Linked DNA regions of Homo sapiens. The protein of the gene in region 1 interacts with the protein of each later gene in a biochemical or structural test. Each region holds a gene or a part of one and is shown on either strand. Other genes may lie near its edges.

The links.
Region 2: the proteins of HERC3 (region 1) and EIF5A2 form a complex in vitro, tested with the Homo sapiens proteins (one study listed by BioGRID).

What each region holds. Positions count from the first base shown.
Region 1 is NC_000004.12:88,592,432-88,604,016, forward strand, and holds the start of HERC3 (probable E3 ubiquitin-protein ligase HERC3), read left to right. Parts: upstream 1-48; 5' UTR 49-143; intron 144-3,125; 5' UTR 3,126-3,183; intron 3,184-5,518; exon of another isoform or gene 5,519-5,656; intron 5,657-11,585. UniProt on the Homo sapiens protein: E3 ubiquitin-protein ligase which accepts ubiquitin from an E2 ubiquitin-conjugating enzyme in the form of a thioester and then directly transfers the ubiquitin to targeted substrates.
Region 2 is NC_000003.12:170,903,547-170,914,987, forward strand, and holds the start of EIF5A2 (eukaryotic translation initiation factor 5A-2), read right to left. Parts: upstream 5,092-11,441; 5' UTR 4,997-5,091; intron 4,296-4,996; 5' UTR 4,261-4,295; coding exon 4,096-4,260; intron 3,548-4,095; coding exon 3,443-3,547; intron 1-3,442. UniProt on the Homo sapiens protein: Translation factor that promotes translation elongation and termination, particularly upon ribosome stalling at specific amino acid sequence contexts.

The DNA.
Region 1 (11,585 bases):
CCATTCACCCAGCGCATTCCGCCGCCCGCAGGCTTGCGGGGAAACTTCCTTATTATTGTGACGCCGAAAACGGAGAAACCCCGGGTCCGGCGAGAGGGGCTGTGACAGTCGGAGTCCCAAGCTGCGGTTCGGCTGCTGCCGAGGTGCGCAGGGCGGGGGCCGGGGTTCCAGGGAGGGGGGTACGGCGGAGCTGCAGCCGCGCTGGGCCGCGTTCCGCCTGGCACTGCAGTCAGCGCGCGGCTCCCGGAGGGGCGGCTGCGGCTCCTCCCGTGGCTCCGGCGGCGGGGGCTGCAGGCACCTCCAGAGACGACCTGGGTCTGGGGCGCGGGGAGGTTGGGGCGCGGCGCCCTTAGTACCCTGCGTACGCCTCCCTGGCGTTCTCGTGGGCTCGCCCTCCGGTCAGAGAGCCCCGCGCCGGGAAAGGCGAGACAAGCCTTCAAAATGGGAGCGCCTCCCGCCCGCGCTCGGCCGCCCTCCCGCCCTGCCGCCCGGGAGGAATTGCGACGCAGAAAGTCAAAAGGAGGATAGTCCCTATGCTCGCCCCCTGCCCCTATTTAAATTCTGGGGTTCCAGGGACCTCCGTGCAGTGAGGGGCGCGGACGCTTTCAATTGAAATGGGAGCTGGCGAGGCCCTGGCATTTTGGGGAACCTCAGCGGCCGCGAGGAGTTTGCGCCGAGGACGCGGTGCACGGCGTCCGCGATGACAGCGCCGGCAGGGCTGCGGGGCCCGGCACCACCCACTTCGCGGAGGCCGGGCCGGCTCGCCTCTCCCGGGTCCGCCTCCTGGGCGGGGCCGGGGGCGAGGGTGTGTGCGGACACGTGTGTACGGGTGTGTGTGTGTGTGTACGCCGACACGTCGGTGCGGACCGACGCGGGGGTGTCAGGAGCTGGGACGGCCGGGGGCAGGTGAGACTTGAGTCATTTGTGAATGTGTGGAGTGGGCAAACCAGGGCAACCAGACCGAGAGGAGCATGTGTAACCTGAAACAGGTGAGCCTATGGAGACAGTACCTAATGCGACTGTGCACGGAATATGTGTATGCAGCATGAGCTCCAGGGAATAAGTATTTGAACTTTGCTGTTGGTCTGTCACTGTTTCTGGCTGCTTTCTGATTGCATTTTACATCAGCTTTCAAATGAGCTCAATTAGGAAGTACCTAATTCAGAGAAAAGCCTTCCAGGATTTTGCTTGCATTCATCACGCATAGAATGCTTTGGGAAAGACGATTCAAGAGCTCTCTTCCATTTGTATGTGTCTTCTGGCTCTTTCCACAAATAAGAAGCTATTTCTAGAACCTTTTATTTGATGATTAGATAAGATCAAGTGAGCTGATTTTTCAACTCTAGACTTGAGAGAAATGAAAAAATAAAAAGTTTTAAATGCGGTGATCGGGTATCATGTTTTAGTCGGCAGATTACTGTGAAGCTCTCTCCTTTTGTACTTTCCTTTACCCTGGGGGAGGAGGGAGTAGCATTATAAATCAGAAAAGCAAAGTACATGGATTGCATATCCTAAAGCAAAATAATTGAATTACATATTTTACATCATGGTCGTACCGCCTTCGAGGCTAGGAACTTTCTGTAAAAAGTATAATGCAGGGAACAAGGAGGACAGGTTAGAAACCTCTTTGGCAGAACTCCTTTGGCATGAAAAACAAAATTAGCACATTAGCACTAGCATCCAGTTCTTGTTCAGTAAGTAGCTGGAGTTTACTTTTTGAAAAAGAAACAGGGATTTCAGAATGTTCCATGTTGTGTGCTTGAAGCCATTCGTTATAGCATTTCATTCTGAAGACCAAATTTAAATTTCTTAAGATTTGTATGACCAATTAAAAACTTTTTTTATACTTAATGAGAGTAGTAGTACCCCTACTGGAGACACAAGATAGTTATGCTTCAGTTTTATAAGTAAAAGTACTATTCTCCAGATCGAATGGGATTTTCTGCATAGAGAGGTAGAAATAAAGTTATGACAATATCTTTTCTTTCGAGATGGGGGGTCTCGCTCTGTTGCACAGGCTGGAGTGCACTGGTGCGATCTCGGCTCACTGCAACCTCCGCCTCCCAGGCTCAAGCGAATCTGCCACCTTACCCTCCAAAGTAGCTGGGACCACAGGCGTGCACCACCATGCCCAGCTAATTTTTTGTAGTTTTTGGTTTCGCCAAAAGACGAAACGGGGTTTTGCCATGTTGCTCAGGCTGATCTCCAACCCCTGGGCTCAGGCTGTCCACCCGCCTGGGCCTCCTAAAGTGCTTGACAAAAATATCTTAAAATCATGGAGGACTTTTTCTTTTGAGATACTTTAGGTATCTCTCTGAGATGATCTCTTCTCATTTTGCATGATGGAGGATGTGGTAATGAAAAGGGAAAGACCGGGTGCAGTGACTGGCTGGGCGCAGTGGCTCACACCTGTAATCCCAGCACTTTGGGCGGCTTGAGACGGGTGGATCACTTGAGGTCAGGAGTTGGAGACCAGCCTGACCAACATGGTGAAACCCCTTCTCTACTAAAAATAGAAAAATTAGCTGGGCGTGGTGGCGGGCGCCTGTAATTCCAGCTACTTGGGAGGCTGAGGCAGGAGAATCGCTTGAACCTGGGAGGCAGAGGTTGCAGTGAGCCGAGATCGGCCACTGCACTCCAGCCTGGGTGAAAGAGCCAGACTCTGTCTCAAAAAAAAAAAAAAAAAAAAAAAGAAAAGGAATGAAAGGAGACAGTCTTCATAACAGTTGTGGCAAAACAAGCTGCTATGTGTCATACATGGAAAAATAAAGAAAATAGACAAAATTTAATTATTTTCCAAAATTTTCTCTAACAAAAATGGGAGATTTTAAAGTAATTCCATTTTTACTACTCCCTATCAAATGTCAGGAATTTTTATAAGGTGATATCTATATCTCTAGTTCACTTTTAGAGGTGATTGATGTCTTTATAACTGGTTAGAGGTTATCTTACTGGTATTTAACCAAACTCCTGTCTTGAGATACAATGCGTGGGGAATATTCAAGATTGAGTAATTTAAAGATATTCTTATTTTCAGAGGTTAACTCCTGTCTTTTTGTTTACAGTAACATGAAGACACAACAGAGTTCCATACTAATGTTATTTATTATTTCTTTAACTTGCAGAACTGCAAGGTGTGGAATATTTCTGGCTTCTAGTCCAATGCCAAGTGTGTGACCTGTGGTGAGTTACTTAATTTTTCTGGACCTCAGTTTTTCATCTTGTAAATGGAGTCCTTTACATGCATTATCCTGTTTAATACTCTCATCAACTCAAGCTAGGGTAGCTACCTAGAGAGGGACCTAAACAAATCTCAGTGCCTTCCTGCTGCTCTAAGATAGTGAAGAGAACAAGGTGAGCCCAAGAAGTAGGAGACCTGGTTTCTGGTCTCTGCTTCAAGCACTTAATTCTTTTTTTTTTTTTTTTTTTTTTTTTTTGAGAGGGAGTCTGGCTGTCGCCCACGCTGGAGTGCAGTGGCGGGATCTCGGCTCACTGCAGGCTCCGCCCCCCGGGGTTCATGCCATTCTCCTGCCTCAGCCTCCCGAGTAGCTGGGACTACAGGTGCCCACCACCTCGCCCAGCTAATTTTTTGTATTTTTAGTAGAGACGGGGTTTCACTGTGTTAGCCAGGATGGTCTTGATCTCCTGACCTCGTGATCCGCCTGCCTCGGCCTTCCAAAGTGTTAGGATTACAGGCGTGAGCCACCGCGCCTGGCCAAGCACTTAATTCTTAGTGGACCAAAGTTACTTGGCCTCTGAAGGCCTTAGCTGCCATTAAAATGAATTTAGGAATGTAAGTCTTTTGCTTAGAGGTTAGATCAAATGGACTTTTAATAAGGTGGTAAATTTGATAATATAACTCTGTCCCCTTTAGACATTTACTCCATTTAGAAATAGTACTTGTTGGTGGCAGGGACATGTGTTTCTGTGTAAGTGAACTGGTTTTATTATTACTCAGGGTGGGGGATCTTTAACATTATCTGGAAAATAAAAGTGGTTACAAGTTGAGGTGGTGGAAATTCAGGTTTTCTAAGAATGGGGGTCAGTTCACTAGGCATTTATCAAGCCTCTGCTGTGCTCTTGTACTCTGCTGAGAATGGAAGGCACAAAGATGAGTAAAACCTGGTTCCTTCATGGAGAAACTCCCAGTCTGCACGTTGGCAGGGTGTTAGTGGAGGAGGTAGGAGAAGCAGCCATACTGCCTCAACAGCGCTTTGCATTTTTGTTTGTTTTGTGAAGTATTTGTAAGCATAAAATAATGCATGTCATATATGTTAAGAAACAACAATAAAAGGACAGAAGCAGAATATCAGCCATGCTATTGAAATGTCTCCCTTTGTGCTCCTTCCAGATTGTTCCCTCTATTCCTACTGCCTCCACAATCATTACCCGCTATTTTGTGTTTGTGATTTGCTTTTCTTCATAGCTTTGTTACCACTGATGATTCTTAATCTCCAAATAATATATTTGTTATAGTTGTGTTTGAATTTTGTAAAAATGCATCATACTCTGAATTCTTCTGTGACTCAACACTTTTTAAGATTTAGTTACAATGATGCTTATAGATGGAGTTTATTTTTTACTGCTGTACAGTGTTCTGTTTTATGCATGTGCCACACTATCTGTTTTCTTATTGATGGATATTTGTTTTTTGTTTTTTTCCTATTTCAAATAATGCTGGAATGAACATTCTTATACGTGTATCTTGGTGCATATGTTCATGAGTTTCTCACTGCATTGGACTGTAAGATAGCCACTAGTCACCTAGGGCTACTTACATTAAAATTTATTAAAATAAAATATTAACTATTTCAGTTCTTCACTTGTATTAGTCACATTTCAAGTACTCAATAGCCACATATACCTACTGGCTACCATAGTGGACAGTGCAAATATATAGCATTTCCATTATCACAGAAAGTTCCAAGTTTCCAGATTTTACTCATCTTTGTATCTCCATTTATTAGTATAGTACAGGAGCACCATAGATGCTTAATAAGTTGGATAATGCTGGTCATATGCCCAGCAGTGAAATTACTGTGTGGGGAGGTATCCACATCTTCATCTTCACTGGAGAATGCCAACTTGTTTTGCCAAGTGCTTATGCCAGTTTATATTCCCACCAGCTGTCTATGAGGGCCCTGGCTGTTGTATATCCTTGACTTGGTATTGTTAGACTTTTCAATTCTTGCCAGTCTCGTTGGTGTCTTTTGAAGGCAGTCCACAGCTTAAGCAGACTGCAGAGAAGTCATTCTTCCAGCTTCACAAAGCCTAGCACCAGGTAGTGAAGAAGGCACCACCTTAGAGGGGATGATCCGGGGAAGGGTAGGAGTGTTTCCTGTGTTGGCTGAGGGGGTCAGAGGACCAAAGTCCAGCTAAAGTGGAGGAGAGAGAAAACAGCAAGGAGTGGATTCACGTTGTTGAAAACTTCTCTTTGCCTTCTATGACATTTCTGTCTTTGGTAGGAACATTTTTGATAATAAGGCAAGTCATTAAAATGAATCTTCTTTGTTACCAGAGTTAATTCTGCATTTTAGTTTTGGCCCTACATTTATTTAAAGCCTGAATTTGGGGAGTATCTGCAAAGCACTGAAGGTTTTGGACATTGTCTTTTCCTGCTGTTGAAAGAGACCCTCTTCATATATACAACATTCAGGTAATTGCTTCTAAGCTTACTTGAAAGGAAGCTTATCCCTATTTTAAATGAGATTAGAAGTCCTGCCTGAGTGTTATTTTGGTCTCAGTGCCTTTCAAACAAAGGGATAAGAATGAGTTGTTAGGCTGCTGTGTGCATAGTCGCATAGTCTTATCATAAGACAAAGTTTAGGAACTGAAGGTTGTCGTTTAGCATTCAACTCACTAGAGCTAGTAAAAAGAGATTTATCTCCCCACCGCCCTCCACCCATGCCCTCTCCAGAATTTAAAAGCAAATGCACACAAAAAAACTTCCTCCTATCAACCTCAAATCCCTTTCATGAAAGTTATGGCAGATGGTTGTGATGCTACTTTGCTGTAGTGCAGATTTGGCAGAATGCAGCTAGTGCTAATTGCAGTGAGGAAGACAGGAGTCACAATCCCATCCTCTTTTGGGAATTGTCCTGTCTGCTGAAATCTCAAAGAAGAGCACTAGGAGTAGGAGTAACATTGACTAAAGCAGCTGACATTTACTGGTCACTTACTACTACATGCCAGGCACCATGCTAAGCCCTTTTTACATGCATTTTCTCATTAATCCTCACAACACTCTAGCACCTTCTCCTGATTTTGGAGCTTAAGGTGGGTAAACATCTTTCCTCAGGTTTCACAGCTAACGTGGTTAATGTAGGGCTTGGATTTTAGTTCCTTTGACCCTTAAGCTCTGCTAAGATTATCTTGAATCTCTTACCAAGAATAGATGAGAAGGACTCAGGAAAGTGCCAGGTTGACATTGAGAGAAAGTTGTACTTCAAAAGTAGTCCTTCCTTTTGTTTTGTCATGGGGAAATAAGAGGCAGGAAATGCAGCCAAGCGGGGCTGGTGTAGGTGCTGAGGGAAGTGTAGTCCTATATTTTGCAGCGAATTTCATAATTGTGTATTTTGAAGGAAAATAAAAGATTCTGCTCTTCTAGGAGCAAGCAAGAGAGTGAATGAGGAAAAATGGGTGTAAGGACCTTGGAGATCAAAATGCCCAGCGATGCAGACCGTTGCTGAAACTAGACCTTTAAAGTCATGGACATCAGCAGCTACAAGATTTAGGGGTCCAACTGGAGTGTACTTTGAAGTGAAAGCTGTGCTAATGGCTGGCTTCTCTCCAATGTGTTGAACTTCTCTCCTGAAAGCTAGATGATTTTAGTTGCTTTTTTCTTTAGTTCCGGCAGAGCATTGTGATGACCTAGGCCGTATTTATAGTTAGGATTGATAGTTTATTTACAGATACACATCTTTTTTGTGGTTGCTATTTAATTCTCTTGGTGGGCAGTTTTTATTTGACCAATTGAAGATTCCATTACTGTAACTCAGTTGGAAGAATTTTTGAAGTTTTCTTGAACAATAGTCCTTTTTATTATCTTTTTTCATAAATTGTTTTTACTAGTCAGTCAGGGATGAGGCCATACTTCAGGCTGTTTACACAGGATTGTGCTTGGCCAAAGCACCCAGAACTCAGATGACTCTCAAGGACTGACTCGTGCCAGATAAACTACAAAAAAAGCTGATAGACCCAGGACGCCAAATTAATAATGAGAATTAGAAATCCTAATAAGACTGAGATGCTTTGGTTACCTGGTCACAGTATTCTATCCCTGTAGTAGAATCTGCCCTAGAAACCAAGTTATTTAAGGTTGCTTGCTAAGCAAGGCAATTGGTTGGGTGAATTTAGTGACAACTGTTATGGAATCTGATCCACCCATCCACTTTTAGGAAAGAATTACTTAGCGGGTCAGATAGCCAGGTTGACTGATCAGGGTCCCTGTTTTCTCTGGAGAGTGGTGCAGACACATTGGGAAGTCTGGCCTTTTGGTTATCTACTTTCTAAGCTCCTTACTATACAGCACAGCATAGTGTCTCTTTCTTTTCCTTTACTTCATCTTTTTTTTGTTAGTTTCACTTTCTTCATCTGTAAATTAGAGATAATGGCAGTACCTGTCTCATAGAAGATGAAATGAGCCAACATCTGTGAAGCACATAGAAAAGTACCAGACTCAGAGTAAGCTCAAATCAGGTCTTATCTGCTGTTATTATTAATAATGTCATTATTAATATTATCAGTCAGGAGTTTCTTTTTATTGCAAGTGAAAGAAACCTGATTCAAACAAGCATAAATAAATAAGCTTAAGTAAACAAAGAAGGGACTTGTTATACTCTGTATATAGTTAGGTTCTGTAAAGTCATGGTGAATACCATATTAGTGAATACAGAGCCATTGTTTCTGAGGAAATACAGGATTAGGTTCTTGTAGGCTGTGGTCAAGAGATTTTTATCAGCCAGCTGACGCATAACCTTTTTTTATGTGTGTTTCTGTCTAGACAGCCTATTTAATATATATTTCTTACTAATATACACAATATTTCTTGGTAATAAAACACTAGTTGAGAAGGGTTTAACATTTTCTTGACCCTGTGTAATGTGACAGTGTTTTTGGCTTTCAGCCTCACATCAGTGCTATCCACTGTGATTTTTATTTTTTATGGGTTGTCATCTCATGAATCCACAGATTTAATTGCTTTTCCATTGTATCTATAGCTTCATTATGTACTCTGGATATTACTTTAGCTCTCTCCAGGGGAGGCCTCACATACAGATCAGCAGATTTCCTGTTCCATATTTTGGATGTACCCGCTTGTTGATTCATTAACATTGAACTCACAGCCAACACTATAACTCATGCATGAAAGAAACTTACCTAATACACATTTTTTTCTCTGTAAGGCACATCACAACCTTCTTGCACCTAAGAACACTAGAAGGTAGGAGAGATAAGACAAATTTATGAAATACTAAAAACGAAAAAATCCATTAATGTGGATAATAGCAATTGAGCAAGTTGGGAAAAATAAATTATTTCTAGATTATGTGAGCTTGCTGGTCTATTAGTGTATCATTAGACCACCAACCACCACCACCACTACCCTGCCAGTTTTTCATTTTATTTCTACTTCCCTCTCCACAATATTTGTAGTTAATTCAAAGAATAACATTTAATCTTAATACTTTTTTAGTGTAGAGTCTAGACAAGGAATAAAAATCTTGGGAAGAAGCAGAACTTTCTGTGTAAGACAGCAAATTGAGATTCAGTTTTATATTTTATTTTGGGCCTTTTCATGCCTTTCCTGAAAGCCTCAAGAGTTCAAAGCATACCTCAGGATTACAATAAGGCAGTTTTAAAATTGGTATATACCAATTAAGGCCATTGAGTTAAATCCAAAGTACTGTAATTGTTGTCAAGAGAGGTTGAAAGTACGAGCTTCCTCTGTGTTGTAATCTTTAATTTGTAGCCATTTGGGCATGCTTTTATCTTGGGAGAAAAGAGTTTGTCATTTTAAAAGCTGACTTTGCATAGAAGAGCCAATTAGCTGTCTCCTTCATATGTTGACAGTTCTCTCCTGTAGATTGGCTGATATATTCAGCTTTGATGTGTTCGCCTAGTATTATAATTCAAAGTAAGTCTTCACCATTTCTGTTAGAATCCATCCTCTTTTCATTAGGATGAAATGAATGTACCAATGAAAAGATTAGGGAAGACACCTTTGAAGTCTGCAATCTTGTCTTGAAATCCTGATATTTTGACCTGTAGGACCTAGAACAGTGATTCTTAATATGGAGAGACTAGCATGTTTAAGAAGTATGATTAGAAAAGGATATTCAGGGGCCGGGCGCGGTGGCTTACGCCTGTAATCCCAGCACTTTGGGAGGCCGAGGCGGGCGGATCACGAGGTCAGGAGATCGAGACCATCCCGGCTAAAACGGTGAAACCCCGTCTCTACTAAAAATACAAAAAATTAGCCGGGCGTAGTGGCGGGCGCCTGTAGTCCCAGCTACTTGGGAGGCTGAGGCAGGAGAATGGCGTGAACCCGGGAGGCGGAGCTTGCAGTGAGCCGAGATCCCGCCACTGCACTCCAGCCTGGGCGACAGAGCGAGACTCCGTCTCAAAAAAAAAAAAAAAAAAGAAAAGGATATTCAGAATTATAATTAAAATGTATATTTGGAAACCGGCTGGGCTCCGTGGCTCACACCTGTGATCCAAGCACTTTGGGAGGCCAAGGCGGGCTAATTACTTGAGGTCAGGAGTTCAAGACCAGCCTGCCCAACATGGCGAAACCCTGTCTCTACTAAAATACCAAAAAAATAGTGGGGTGTGGTGGCACACGCCTGTAATCCCAGCTACTTGAGAGACTGAGGCAGGAGAATTACTTGAACCTGTGAGGCGTAGGTTGCAGTGAGCTGAGATTGCGCCACTGCACTCCAGCCTGGGAGACAGAGCGAGACTTGGTCTCCAAAAAAAAAAAAAAAAAAAAAAAAGTATGTTTGGAAACTGAAATGTAATCTGAATGTCCTTAAGACCAATCTTCTGCATTGCTTGTTTGTTTTTAAGATGGGTCTCGCTCTATTACCCAGGCTGGAGTGCAGCAGTGCGATCACAGCTCACTGAAACCTTGACCTCCTAGGCTCAAACGATCCTCTCACCCCAGCACCCCAAGTAGCTGGGACTACAGGTGTGTCCTACCACACTTGGCTGATTTTATTTTATTTTTTGTGGAGATAAGGTCTCACTGTGTTGCCCAGGCTGGTCTCAAACTCCTGGGCTTAAGCTGTCCTCTCACCTTGGCCTCCCAAAGTGTTAGGATCACAGGTGTGAGCCACTGTGCCTGGTCACTGTTTTCTTTCATATCCAGATAAAGTGATTCAAACCCAAGGCGATGCTGATTAGAGATTTAGCGTCTTTCTCAAATTTCTAAGAATTTCCGAAGGGAAGAAGAATGTTTAGGTTCTCTTATCATGCCTCATCCAAAACTCTTGCTCAGTTGTCAGTCTTCAGGAGGGGCTCTGAGGGCTTATTTTCAAGGTTCTTTTTATTCATGCTTGGCAAAATACAGTTATTGTAAGGGTGTTGTGTCTTAACTTTGATAGAAGGTTTGGGATTCTCAAAAGTAGTTACAGAACAGGCAACAAGTTCAAACTTGAGTGTTAGACACCACTGTTCTCAAAATTCATCTGCTGTTCTCTGCCACGGAGAATCTACTGTTTACTGGCCAGGTTCCAAACTTGCAGCCATATTACAGGCTTCAATCGCTTTCTCTTTTTTTTTTTTTTTTTTTTGAGGTGGAGTTTTGCTCTTGTTGCCCAGGCTGGAGTGCAGTGGCGCCATCTTGGCTCACTGCAACCTCTGCCTCCTGGGTTCAAGCGATTCTTGTGCCTCAGCCTCCCGAGTAGCTGGGATTATGGGCACCCGCCACCACGCCCCACTAATTTTTGTATTTTTAGTAGAGATGCGGTTTCACCATGTTGGTCAGGCTGGTCTCGAACTCCTTCCTCAGGTGATCCATCTGCCTCAGCCTCCCAAAGTGCTGGGATTACAGGTGTGAGCCACCATGCCCGGCCAATCGCTCTCTCTTAATTTGCTATCTTAAATAGGAGCATCTACTGTTTTATAAGGCATGCTTGGGATTTCCCCCGTCTCCTTTCGTCTCTAAATCTTGGACCTTTCTTTCAAAACCAGAGAGGTGCATGGGGTATTTTCCTTGACAGAAGATCCACCCACTTAAGATTTCCAACTTTATCAATAGTCAGAACTTTTGAAGTTATAATATTTCATTTCTGATCAAAGCATTAGATAAAGCTTCCCCTCTTATGTCTTTGTAAGCAAAAATAATATATTGAAATAATTGATACCTTTCCCATATTAAACTCTAGGGGTTGTTCCCTCCTCCTTTCTGTTGTAGAAAAAATACTTTTGTGCCTATTATGTTGGTAATAACAATTCTCACAATTAAACTCAAGAAAGCCTTGTTGGCTGATGTGGACCTGCAGAGGCAGTAGACATGTAGCAAGAGAAAGGAAATTTAAAGACAATTAAAAAATCTTTACTGAGATATAATTCACATACCATAA
Region 2 (11,441 bases), on another chromosome or scaffold:
TGTAACAAATATTTGCTTCTAGTCCTCGCAACATTGGGCCCTATTGCTTTAGAGGTTTTCTATTTCCAAAGAAAGACTGCTTCCATCTGAGAACACAAGGATTCCCATGAAACAGGTAAAAATTATAAAAAGACTTTAAGCTCAAGGAATTCAATGAACATATCTAAACATTCAAATAATATACTACTTATTTGAATTCAATTAACATATCTCAGCATTCAAATGATATACTACTTATTTGAATTCAATTAACATATCTAAACATTCAAATAATATACTACTTATTTGAAGAATATACTAGAATTTAATAGTCACAGTTTTGGCAATTCACTAATAATCCAAAGGTCTACAATATATACTTTATGTGTCTATAGTAATTAGTCTTCCTTCTGGAAAATGGTTTTCAAATGACAGGTAAAACTGTAGTAAATGCAGAAACGGCATTTAACTTGTGGTGAAGTTCATATCAACACAGAACTTTCTAAAGAAATATGATTCCAGAGAGTGCTAAAGTCTGAATAAGCATTTCTGTATGAATTTGGGGATTCCCAAAGGTCTATCTGGATGCATTTATAATTTTCAACATCACTCAGTCCCGGACATCTATAACTACTTTTGGGAGAAGTAATGTAAATGAGCAATTCTAATCCAAGCTAATCTTGAAAGAGAAGTTAGGAGACAATTTTTCTTTCATTCTGAACTTATTTTAAAACACATAAAATTAAAACTATAAATATTAATACGTTTTGTTTCCTGTTTACTTTTTAATTATCATAATGAACAGAATACATATTTCTCTTTAGCCAACTGCCGAACTGGCACTCAAAATATTGAATTCAGCAAACATAAAGGATTACACACGCCAAATAATGAGTAGATATTTAATCAAGGCACTTGGTTAGGTAAGTGAAGACCACCATAGCACAATAAATATAAATAGAAAGGCCCACAGAACTTTTGTTTTTGAGACAGGGTCCCACTCTGTCGCCCAGGCTAGAGTGCAGTGGAGTGATCACAGCTTAGTGCAGCCTTGACCTCCCAAGGCTCAAGTGATCCTCCCACCTCAGCCTCTGGGTCTGCTGGGACTACAGCTGTGTACACCACCATGCCTCGCTAATTTTTTTTTTTCTGTATTTTGTAAAGATGGCGTCTCACCACATTGCCCAGGTTGGAGAACTAGTTTTTTAAACAATTAACAGAAATAAGTTATTTTTCTATGCTGACTTGAAAATGAAGAGCAGAGAAATACTGAATACTTTCTATGCCAGGCGTTGTTGTATTAACTAATTAAACCTCAAAATGATCCCATGAGGCGTTATTATTTATGTCTCTGCTTTATAAAGAAAGAAATGGAAGCAAAACAGGTTAAGTAACTTGTCAACCAAGGTCACACAGCTATTAAGTGCCAAAGTAAGACTAGGACCAGGCCTGCCTGGCTTAAATCATCCTCTTATCCACTTTGCAGTGCGGAGTACATACCAAGGGTTGGGACAAGGGTGAAGTAAGACACTTGTCTTGGGTGCAAAATTAAAGAAGGCACCAAAAAAACCTCAGTGATCAGATAGGCATTTTAATGCAATATTTTAAAAAATTAGAATTAATGCAAAAATCCTATGATAAAATACCAAAATTCTAAATAAAGATGGGATCAGAATTAATTTTCTTTGCGCCTTGAGCTCCTATATGGCTTGTCATTGTTACTAGTTCTGTCTTTATTTAAAATTTTGTGCCTGAGGCAAGAGCCTCCCTCACTTCATTTGCCTCATCCTAGTCTAGGACCCAAACCAAATTTTTCCTTTAAGTCTTGAGCTCCAATCAATGACTGGCTAACCTTATCATAGTATAATAGTAATTATCTGAACTGCTGATACCATCTTTCTGAAACATGCAACAGGCAAAAGCATTCTATATTGAATGAATATTACTGAATATAATTAATATTGAATAGTCAAAGCTTTCATACTTTAAGACGAAAAGAGAAACCCAATTTTGACAACATTCTACGCTCAACTTTAGCCTGCTGTACTATCTCTACCACATTCAGTAATCACATATACATTTAACAAATATTTTTCGAGCACCTACTATGTACCACATCAAAGTTGGTGCTCCAACAATAATGAAATGATTAAGTAGAATTTTTACATAGGAAAAGGGGGAAACAGAACAGCACTTTTTGGTACGTATCTACTTATGGAGTTCTTAATGGGGTACATTTTCTCATTTAATCCTCCTATTATCACTATTTTGTAGATGAGAAAACAGGCTCAGAAAGGTGTATAACTTGTCCAAAATCATCCAACTAGAAAGTGACAGAACTAGATCCAAACCCAGATCTACCTGGTTAAAAAAACCCACTTGCAAGACAATTCAAATTTCTACAAAGACTTCAAAGCAACCTAGAAAACATTTATGACAAGTAGGAAAGTGAAAATATAAAAGTGTTTACTAGATTAAAACCACAAAAAAGTATGTTTGCATGTGGACAAACAGCAAAAGGAAATCATTGCGTAAGTGCAGTTGATAGCAACATTAAAAGAAATTTATACAATACAACAAAGGGTACAGAAAAAAATCAGTTTAAGTCGGATAAAACAAATACCAGTGTCAACTTTGTATTTTTCACTATGTAAAATGAGCAGAAATGAGTTTGATATATGGTATGCTTGATACAGAAATTGAAGACTTTCAAGAAAAGCTTTAGTTATAAGTAATCTGAGCTTCCACATCCTATAAGGTCAATTATTTTGTTATCATCAATACTTCAAACAACAAAATGCTATCATTAAATATGACCTACCCAAATGTATAACTGGAACTAAAACTTGAAATTTACATACATAATTTAGCAAAAGGTCATAGCATGGTCACTAAGTATAATTTAACCAATTATATAGTTTTTGTGTTTTCTTCACCATACTCAGTGACCAGGTACTTTATCCTTTATATTTATGGCTTTCAACTTATTTCTCTACTTAAGAATGTCAAGTTCTGACTAACATTCATTAATGCAAAAACTTGGTAGGAACATGAATTTCAGTAGTTTCTTGAATGTCTCAGGTCTGATCAGTGAAAAGAAACAAAACATCCAGGAGGGATGTTTTAAATTAGAACAAGAAATATTTTACAACAGAGAGAATAGTACTTTTACTAAACATTGGACTTAATTGCAATATGCAGTCACTTGGCCTGAGAACACTAATAAGTATTTGACTTTTTAAAAAATGCAAGAATGTGAAAAAAATAGCAAACTAGCAATAATCCTAGAAAAGTACATGTGTTAAACATCACTATTTCTCCAATTTCTAAGATAGCTGGTGCCTAATAATTGGTTAGAAAAACCTACAAAACTACTCTTGGGTTTTGTCAAATTATTACTGATAGTACAAAGTATTTGCACCTTGAAGAAACAAGCAACATTCTAAAGAAAATCAGTGCTTACTTGATAATCATTTCTCTTAATATTTGGAACATCCATGTTGTGAGTAGAAGGACAAATATCTTCATATTTTTTGCCCGTGAAAATATCAATTCCAACAAGGTGAACCTAACAGAGGAGAACAGGAAACCTGTTTAATCTCTGCCAAGTATATCACTCATTACACACACAAGAGCACAATACCAATGCTGATTACAACAGATTCTTTTTCTCCTCCTTCCAAGGTCATCTAATTTTACTTAAAAAAAAATGTAGTGGTCTTACAATTAAGAGGCAGTAAACAACTAAACAGTATCACGACATGTCAAGACCCAATATAGACCAGTGATTCAATTATGAGATTACACAAGAAAAATAAAGTGTAGATTTCTTAGAATTGCTAGAACAGGTTTTCTCATCTGTAAACTAAATAGATCTTATAGGTCACTAGGATTCAGGAAAGTTTCAGTTCCCAGTTAATGAACATTGTAAGGGCCCAAGAAGGGAATGCTACCTTTAAGTATTCAACGTAATAACTGATTACCCAGTAATTGTGGGAAGGAAAAAATAGTGCTTATTACAAAATTTTAAGTATAGAAATCTCATGATCTGTAACGGAATACAAATGATCAAAGTCCCAACGCCGAAGCCAAAGCCTGATCTGCAAGGGTACTTACCTTGGCATGACCATGCTTTCCAGTTTTGGAAGTTGACATCTCCACTATTTTGCATGGTCGTCCTTTGAGCACCACGAAGCCGTTTTTGCGCAAGGCCGAGCACTGCATAGGGTAAGTGCTGGAAGCCCCGGCATCTCCAGTAGTGAAATCAATTTCGTCTGCCATGGTGGGCAGGGGAGATGGTAGTTTTTCCGTGGGAACTACACAAAAAGTTTGTGTTTGCTTTTTAACAACGGGTATGTAGGCAGGGAAACGTCTCATTTCGGACAAGTTATGTGCCAAGCATCATGGGCCCGTTATTTCTGCATGTAAGGAACACCCACCCTAGACTAGTGGCCACTTTCTAACTCTGGCCTCTACAAACTTTTCCAGCTACTGCTTGGGGAGGTGGGATGAGAAGTCGCAGAGGAGCTCGCTGAGGGTGGGGACACCCGCCCTGGGCGCTCCTCCGTGCTGGAAACAGCAGGTTGCGGCCCCCATCGCCCCACCGCAGAAGCCGGCGACCTTCCCCCGCCGCCCAGCCCTCGGCCGCCGCCCCGAACCCTACTGCGGGGGACCCAGCCCAGGCCGCAGGTCCCCGCGAAGGATGCGGGGTAACAGAACCTGGCCAGCAGCACCCGGCCCTCTGCTAGCTGGCGCGCACCCCGCCCTCCACCCTTCAACGTCGCCGCCGCGGCCGCACAGGCGCCCCCTGTTCTGCCGGCATCCAGGGCTCAGCTCGGCCCGGCCCGGCCCCACTAGGGCCTGAGCCCCGGCGGGTCCCGCGCTCGCCTCTGTTCCCCCATCCATTCTCCTTCTTTCTCTCGGTCAGCGCTCAGTTCTGGGCGCCTTCCCCGGCCCTGCCTCACTCTGGCCCCATCCCCACCAGCTTTTCCCCACCAGCTTTTCCCCAGGTCTTCACCTTTCAGCTGGCAAAGAGCGCCTTTCGTCTGCGCACCCGCGCTGGTCCCCTACAGCAGCGGCGCCGGCAGCGGCGGTGGCGGCCGCGGCAGTTCCAAGAGACGGGGCGGGGCCGCCACACTTTCCACACCCCAGCCTCCCCGCCCTTACCCGCCCCCACTCAGCCCTATTTCCGGGATAGGCCCCGGAGCGTCACAGGCACCGCCCTCTCGGGCTACCATTGGCTACCAGATTCCCGAGGCTCCGCCCAGTCACGTGAAGAGCGCCCTGGCAACCCCACGTGCTGCGGATTAGTGCACTTCCGGCGTGGAGCGCACTTTCAGCAGTCTGGTTGCCGAGGGTGAGCTCGCTGGCAGAGGAACTTGCGCCTTCCAACTCTTAGGTTTGTTGCGTTCGGGTCGCAGTCGACTTTAATGGGAACCAAGCAAAGCACCCAATGGCCCCTGCCATCAGGTGCGTGGCAGTTATCACATGACGATCGTCAGAACTCGCGAGGCGCGCAGATTCAGCGAGTGCCAGTGTGGCTGGCTGTGAAGCGAACTTTGGGTTCGAGCTTCTGGTTCAGCTTGCAGCCTTTCTTGGGGTTCGAACCTCCTCCTGGTCCTTAAAGAAGAATTCAGGTGCAGTATTTTATTACCCAGCTCGGCACCGCAGGTCCTGAGGACCCCCCATTCACCCCTTGGTGAGATTTTTGGCAGCGACTGCCGCCGGATGCCCCTGTAGAGTCAGCACTGCTCCCTGGGGTGGGAACTCCCGAAGCGTCCGCCAGCTAACAAGCCAGCAGTGAAATGAATTAACCCACTTCTCACACCAAAGGCTGTTGGGAAGTTGTGGAGGCGAAGGGTGTCTGACTCCTACGGCATTGTGGGTCCAGAGAGGTGTTCTGCCGACTCATCCATTCTTTCCTCCTGGCATTGGCATTCCTTAGAGTTTGGGGTTTAACCCTGGCACATTAGAACGCTTGGATGGTCTTCAAAATTGACCTAGAGCTTGTAGACTGCCATAGAAAGGTTCTTAAAAGAGATGTGCTCCCCCTTCACAGTTTCATTTCGCAACCTACCGCAGTATCCTATCTTGGGGAGGTGATCTAGGAAATTATTTCCCATCCCACACCCGCATTTATGTGGTAACTTTGATTTCCTATTGCTGTCTCATGAATAATCCCATATCTCACATTCCTGTATGACTCTACAGTTTACACATATCTTTCAAACAGGTCCAATTTAACTTTCGCAATAAGTTACTGCCCTCTCATGTACTGAATTCAGCCTCTAGCTAATATACAAAGGAGCCATTACAGCAGTGGCTCATGCCTGTAATCCCAGCACGTTGGGAGGCTGAGGCAGGTGGGTTCCCTGAGCTCAGGAGTTCGAGATCAGCCTGGGCAGCATCGTGAAACCCCGTCTCTACCAAAAATACGAAAACTTAGCTGGGCATGGTGCTGTGCACCTGTGGTCCCAGCTACTAGGGAGGTTGAGGTGGGAGGATCACTTGAGCCTGGGAGGTGGAGACTGCAGTGAGCCGAGATCCGGCCACTGTACTCCAACCTGGCTGACAGAGTGAGACCACCCCCCCCACCCCCAACACCCCAAAAAGAAAGAGCCAGATTAGAATCTTGGTTCATTAGCTCTTTCTGCTTTTCCTTATACCTCCTAACTTTTCCCTATTGTTTTTACAATGATCGCTAATAGTATTTAGTATTTATATAGGCAGGTAGTGTACTAAATTTTTGATGTGCATTATTCCTTTGTTTGTCACTGCTGCTTTCTATTTTTAACCTTGTTAAGTTATTCATATAAAGAAAAATTTGTCCCTTTTCTTTTTATGAGTTTTGAAAAACATATCTTGATCATCTGCTATGATCAAGATATGGAATATTTCCCTCATTCCAAAAGTTTTCTAGTGGCTTTTTGTTCTCAGTTTCCTCCCTCTACACCCAGCCCCTGGCAAATATTAACAGTACTTTTTTAACCTGCATTTTTAGTTACGGAAAAAGGAGAAAAGCAATTTGCCCCAGATTACAAAGCTAGTAAGTTGGAAAACCAAGGTTGGAACCTAGGCAGTTTGGTTCCAGAGTCACTGCTCTACCTACCACCATATACTGCATTCACAAAAGATTTGGGTTTGGAATCAAATGACTGAGCATTACTCATTCAATAAATACAGTCAGTTCTCCTGAAGTCAGTAAGAACACTGAATTGGCAAATACTAAACCATTGCTCCTAGGGGAAATACAGGGTTAGGTTCCTCTGAGCCTCTGGGCCACAACATTGGTTAATATGTGATTTTTAGTGTGTTTCCATTTAAAGACACCTGATTTCCTATATATTGTTGGTTCATTAACATTAAACTCATGGCCAACAGCAATGTAATTCATACCTGAAGGTAGCTTATCTAACATATGCTCTCTGTAAGGCACACTGTAGCTTTCTTGTGTTTTGGAACATTAGACAGCTCTTCAGCACAGTGCTTGGGGGCCATTTTGAATGGTGAAATCACCAACAAAAAGCACAACAATGCAAAAACTGGCAATAAATAGACTGAAAAGAATACTGGTTAACAGTTTGACGACTGAAACAAGAAGGCAGAGCATGGCTGAGTTTGACCTCAGCTAAATGTGCGTTAGATGGCACGAGTCTCTGTGCATGTTCACAAATGACTTCAAAAGCACTGCAAGTATTGATTTTAAGATTATAAGTAAATTATGTCAAGTATGCAAATTTGCAAATATGGAATCCAAAAATAATGAAGATTGACTATGTGTACTTTAGCAGCCTTACCTCTGGTATTACTGTGTTGACCAAGACAGCCTCTGGTTCCTAAGGTGCTTGCAGTCTATTGCAGAAGACAGTCTAGTAATTTTAAAATATGAAACAAATGCTAGTAAAGAAATAACTATAAGGCACTGAAAAAAGGGGCTTATTTAGGCTAGGTGGTGTCCAATTAAAATATGATACAAGCCACATATAGTTTTGAGTTTTCTTTTAGACACATAAAGTTAAAAAATGAAACTAATTTCAATAGTATATTCTGTTTAACTGAATATGTCCAAAATATTATTTCACATGTAACCAATATAAAAATATTACTAAGATATTTTACTTTTTATCCATACTAAGCCTTCAAAATCTGGTGTATTTTACACTTTCAGTACATCTAAATTCAGACTAGCTATAATTCAAGTGCTCAATAACTAGGCATAGTTGGTGGCTATCATATTGGGCATCATAGGTCTAGAAGGTTCAGGAACTGCTTCTCTCGGGGGATATCAGTTTGAGATTTGAAAGACAAATAGAAGTTAGCAATGGAGAGGAGTTTAGAAAGGGCACTTTAGGCAAAGGAAATGGGGTTACAGAGGTGTATTGTGACAGAATCGTGGCACCATTTGTACTGTAAATGGCGTAGTATGATGGTGTGTACTGTAAAGATGGGTGAATTCGGACTTTCTCCCAAGGGCAATAGAGAAGCATTGAGACAGTACATACAAGAAAATGATAAATTTTTTATTATTTTTAAATTTTTTTAATTAAATTTTTTTTTGAGATGGAGTGTCGCTGTGTTGCTCCAGGCTGGAGTGCAGTGGTGTGATCTCGGCTCATTGCAACCTCCACCTCCCAGGTTCAAGCCATTCTCCTGCCTCAGCCTCCCGAGTAGCTGGGAGTATAGGTGCCTGCCACTACGCCTGGCTAATTTTTTTTTTTTTATGTATTTTTAGTAGAAACGGGGTTTCACCATGTTAGCCAGAATGGTCTTAATCTCCTGACCTTATGATCTGCCTGCCTCAGCCTCCCAAAGTGCTGGGATTACAGGTGTAAGCCACTGTGCCTGGCCTTTTTTTTTTTTTTTTTTTAATTTAGACTATTCTAGTTGTGATATGGAGTATTTTTTAGGAGGAGAAAATATTGGAAGTAGGAAATCAATTAGACATAATAATGTTGAACAAACATGATGAATGAGAAGATTGCAGAGTTATAAGGGAAAATGGAAAAAATGTCATAATTAATTGAATGTTAAGGGTCAAAATGGGGAGGCACAGAGTACGAAGAACAGAAAAGAGTCAAATTAAGACTCAACAGTTTATGGTGTAAAAATCTGGGTGAATGGTGGTGAATTTTCATTGAGATAGAAAATAGAGGAGAAACAGTTTGTGAGGAAAGTCGAGTTCACTTTTGGGCAGATCAAGTTTAAGGTTCCTATGGGAAAGGGAACTATCTGAAGTAGAGATACATGTTTATGAATCAGTATATAGGTGATGATTAAAGCTATGAAAGTGGAATATTTAGAGGAAGAATGCGCAATGAAAAAAGAGGAGTGAAAAATAGAGCCCTGTGCTATTTAAAGGATCACCAGTGGAAGAGGAGAATGAGAAAGAACATTGTATTTCTTAGGGTTTTTTGGTTACAAGCGACAGAAAACAGTTCCTACCAATTTAAGTAAAAAGCACGTCTTTATAGGAATGATATGGAATAACTACAGGTTTGAAAGGAAGCCTGAAAGGACAGAAACTGTGCAACTTTAGAGTTTCTGTAGCAAGAACCATTGTATAGTCTCATCTGATGCTGTTAGAATTAACAACCTACAAGTGTTAATACAAAGTCTAAGAGTTAAAGTTCTGGAAGATGAAATTCTGGTTGCTCTAGCGTTCATTTCCTGTCCACCCCTTGACAAGGCGCCTTGCTCCAATAGTCCTGTTTCTACCTCTTGCAAACCAAAAGTATCTGGGACAGATCTCAATCAATTTAGAAAGTTTATTTTGCCAAGGTTAAGGATGCACCTGTGATACAGCTTCAGGCGGTCCTAATGACATGTAACCAAGGTGGTCAAGGTACAGCTTGATTTTATACATTTTTTTTTTTTTTGAGATGGAGTCTCACTCTGTCGCTCAGGCTGGAGTGCAGTGGCACGATCTGGGCTCACTGCAAGCTCCGCCTCCCGGGTTCACGCCATTCTCCTGCCTCAGCCTCCCCAGTAGCTGGGACTACAGGCGCTTGCCACCATGCCTGGCTAATTTTTTTGTACTTTTAGTAGAGACGGGGTTTCACCATGTTAGCCAGGATGGTCTCGATCTCCTGACCTTGTAATCCACCCGCCTCGGCCTCCCAAAGTGCTGGGATTACAGGCGTGAGCCACCGCGCCCTGCTGATTTTATACATTTTTGGGAGACTTGAAATGTCAGTCAATACATGTAAGTCGTACATTGTTTCAGTCTGAAAAGACAGGACAGCTCAAAGTCGGGTGGGGTTGGTGGTGGGGTGGGGCTTCCAGGTCATAGGTAGATAAAAGACAAATGGTTGCATTCTTCTGAGTCTTTAATCAACCTTTCACTGAGTACACAATTTACATGTGAGAGGAGTTTAGAGGAATAGTTATTTATGCCTTAGAGTGGCTCAGTGAATCTTCGTTTTTACATGAACAGTAGGGCCTAGGAAGCAATCAGATAAGTATTTGTCTCAGTTGAGCAGAGGGATGACTTTAAGTTCTGTTTTTTGTCCCTCACCTGTGAGGATAAGCTATCAATTTACTTTGCCAGGGTGAAAATCAGCAGAACTGTTTTAGGGTAAAGATCATGAGGTCCACGAGGAATTTTCTTGGGGGCAAATTGTGAGGGAGGTTTGTAGCTTTTTTATCTTTGTAGCTATCTTATTTAGGAATAAAATGGGAAGCAGGTTTGCCTGATGCAGTTTCCAGCTTGACTTTTCCCTTTCGCTTGGTGAGATTTATTTTCCTTTCACACTCTGCTTTATATAAAGGAGGTTCGACCATGTTGACTTCTTTTTAAATGGAATAGCACTGGATTTAGAATAGCATTAACCAAACCAGCAAACTGTCTGACATAGCTGCACAAAAATACAATGACACATATACCTACATCAGCAAATTAAGCCTGATTTAATTTTATTGATCTGATCTCTACGGTTGAGCACCCTCCGTTTCTAAAATAATTTTAGTATTTTTGACCGTATAAATCAACAAATGCCTGTAACTCATTTTGTGGCCAAACTTTCACTGTCAGGTAGTTTAATTTCAATTTCAGGTAGTTTAATTTGACTTTCAGTCTCCAAATTGGGATTGGATCCTGGCCTAAGTAACAATGAAGGGTGGAGCATAAGGGAATTAATGGCTTCCTCCTCAAGGGAGTGACAGTTTCCTCAGGCAAGGCAGATACAGTTGTTTACAAGAAACACTCCTTGTCAGATTATGTGTTGTTGATAGCGTTTACAGAGGATTTGGAGGTTTGGAGTACTTCACCTTAGAAGTTGAAGTACATAGATGTCCCCATTTTCCTTGTAGAGCTTTCCCTTATCAGTTGCCTAATGTTTACAAATGAGACCAGCAATGCACAGATTCAAACTCTTAAATTTGTTTCAAAGAAATCTTAGCCTATGAGTCAGTATTTTTTTCTTGTTCTAAGATGAAATTTAGGGAACACATTTCTCATGGTTTAA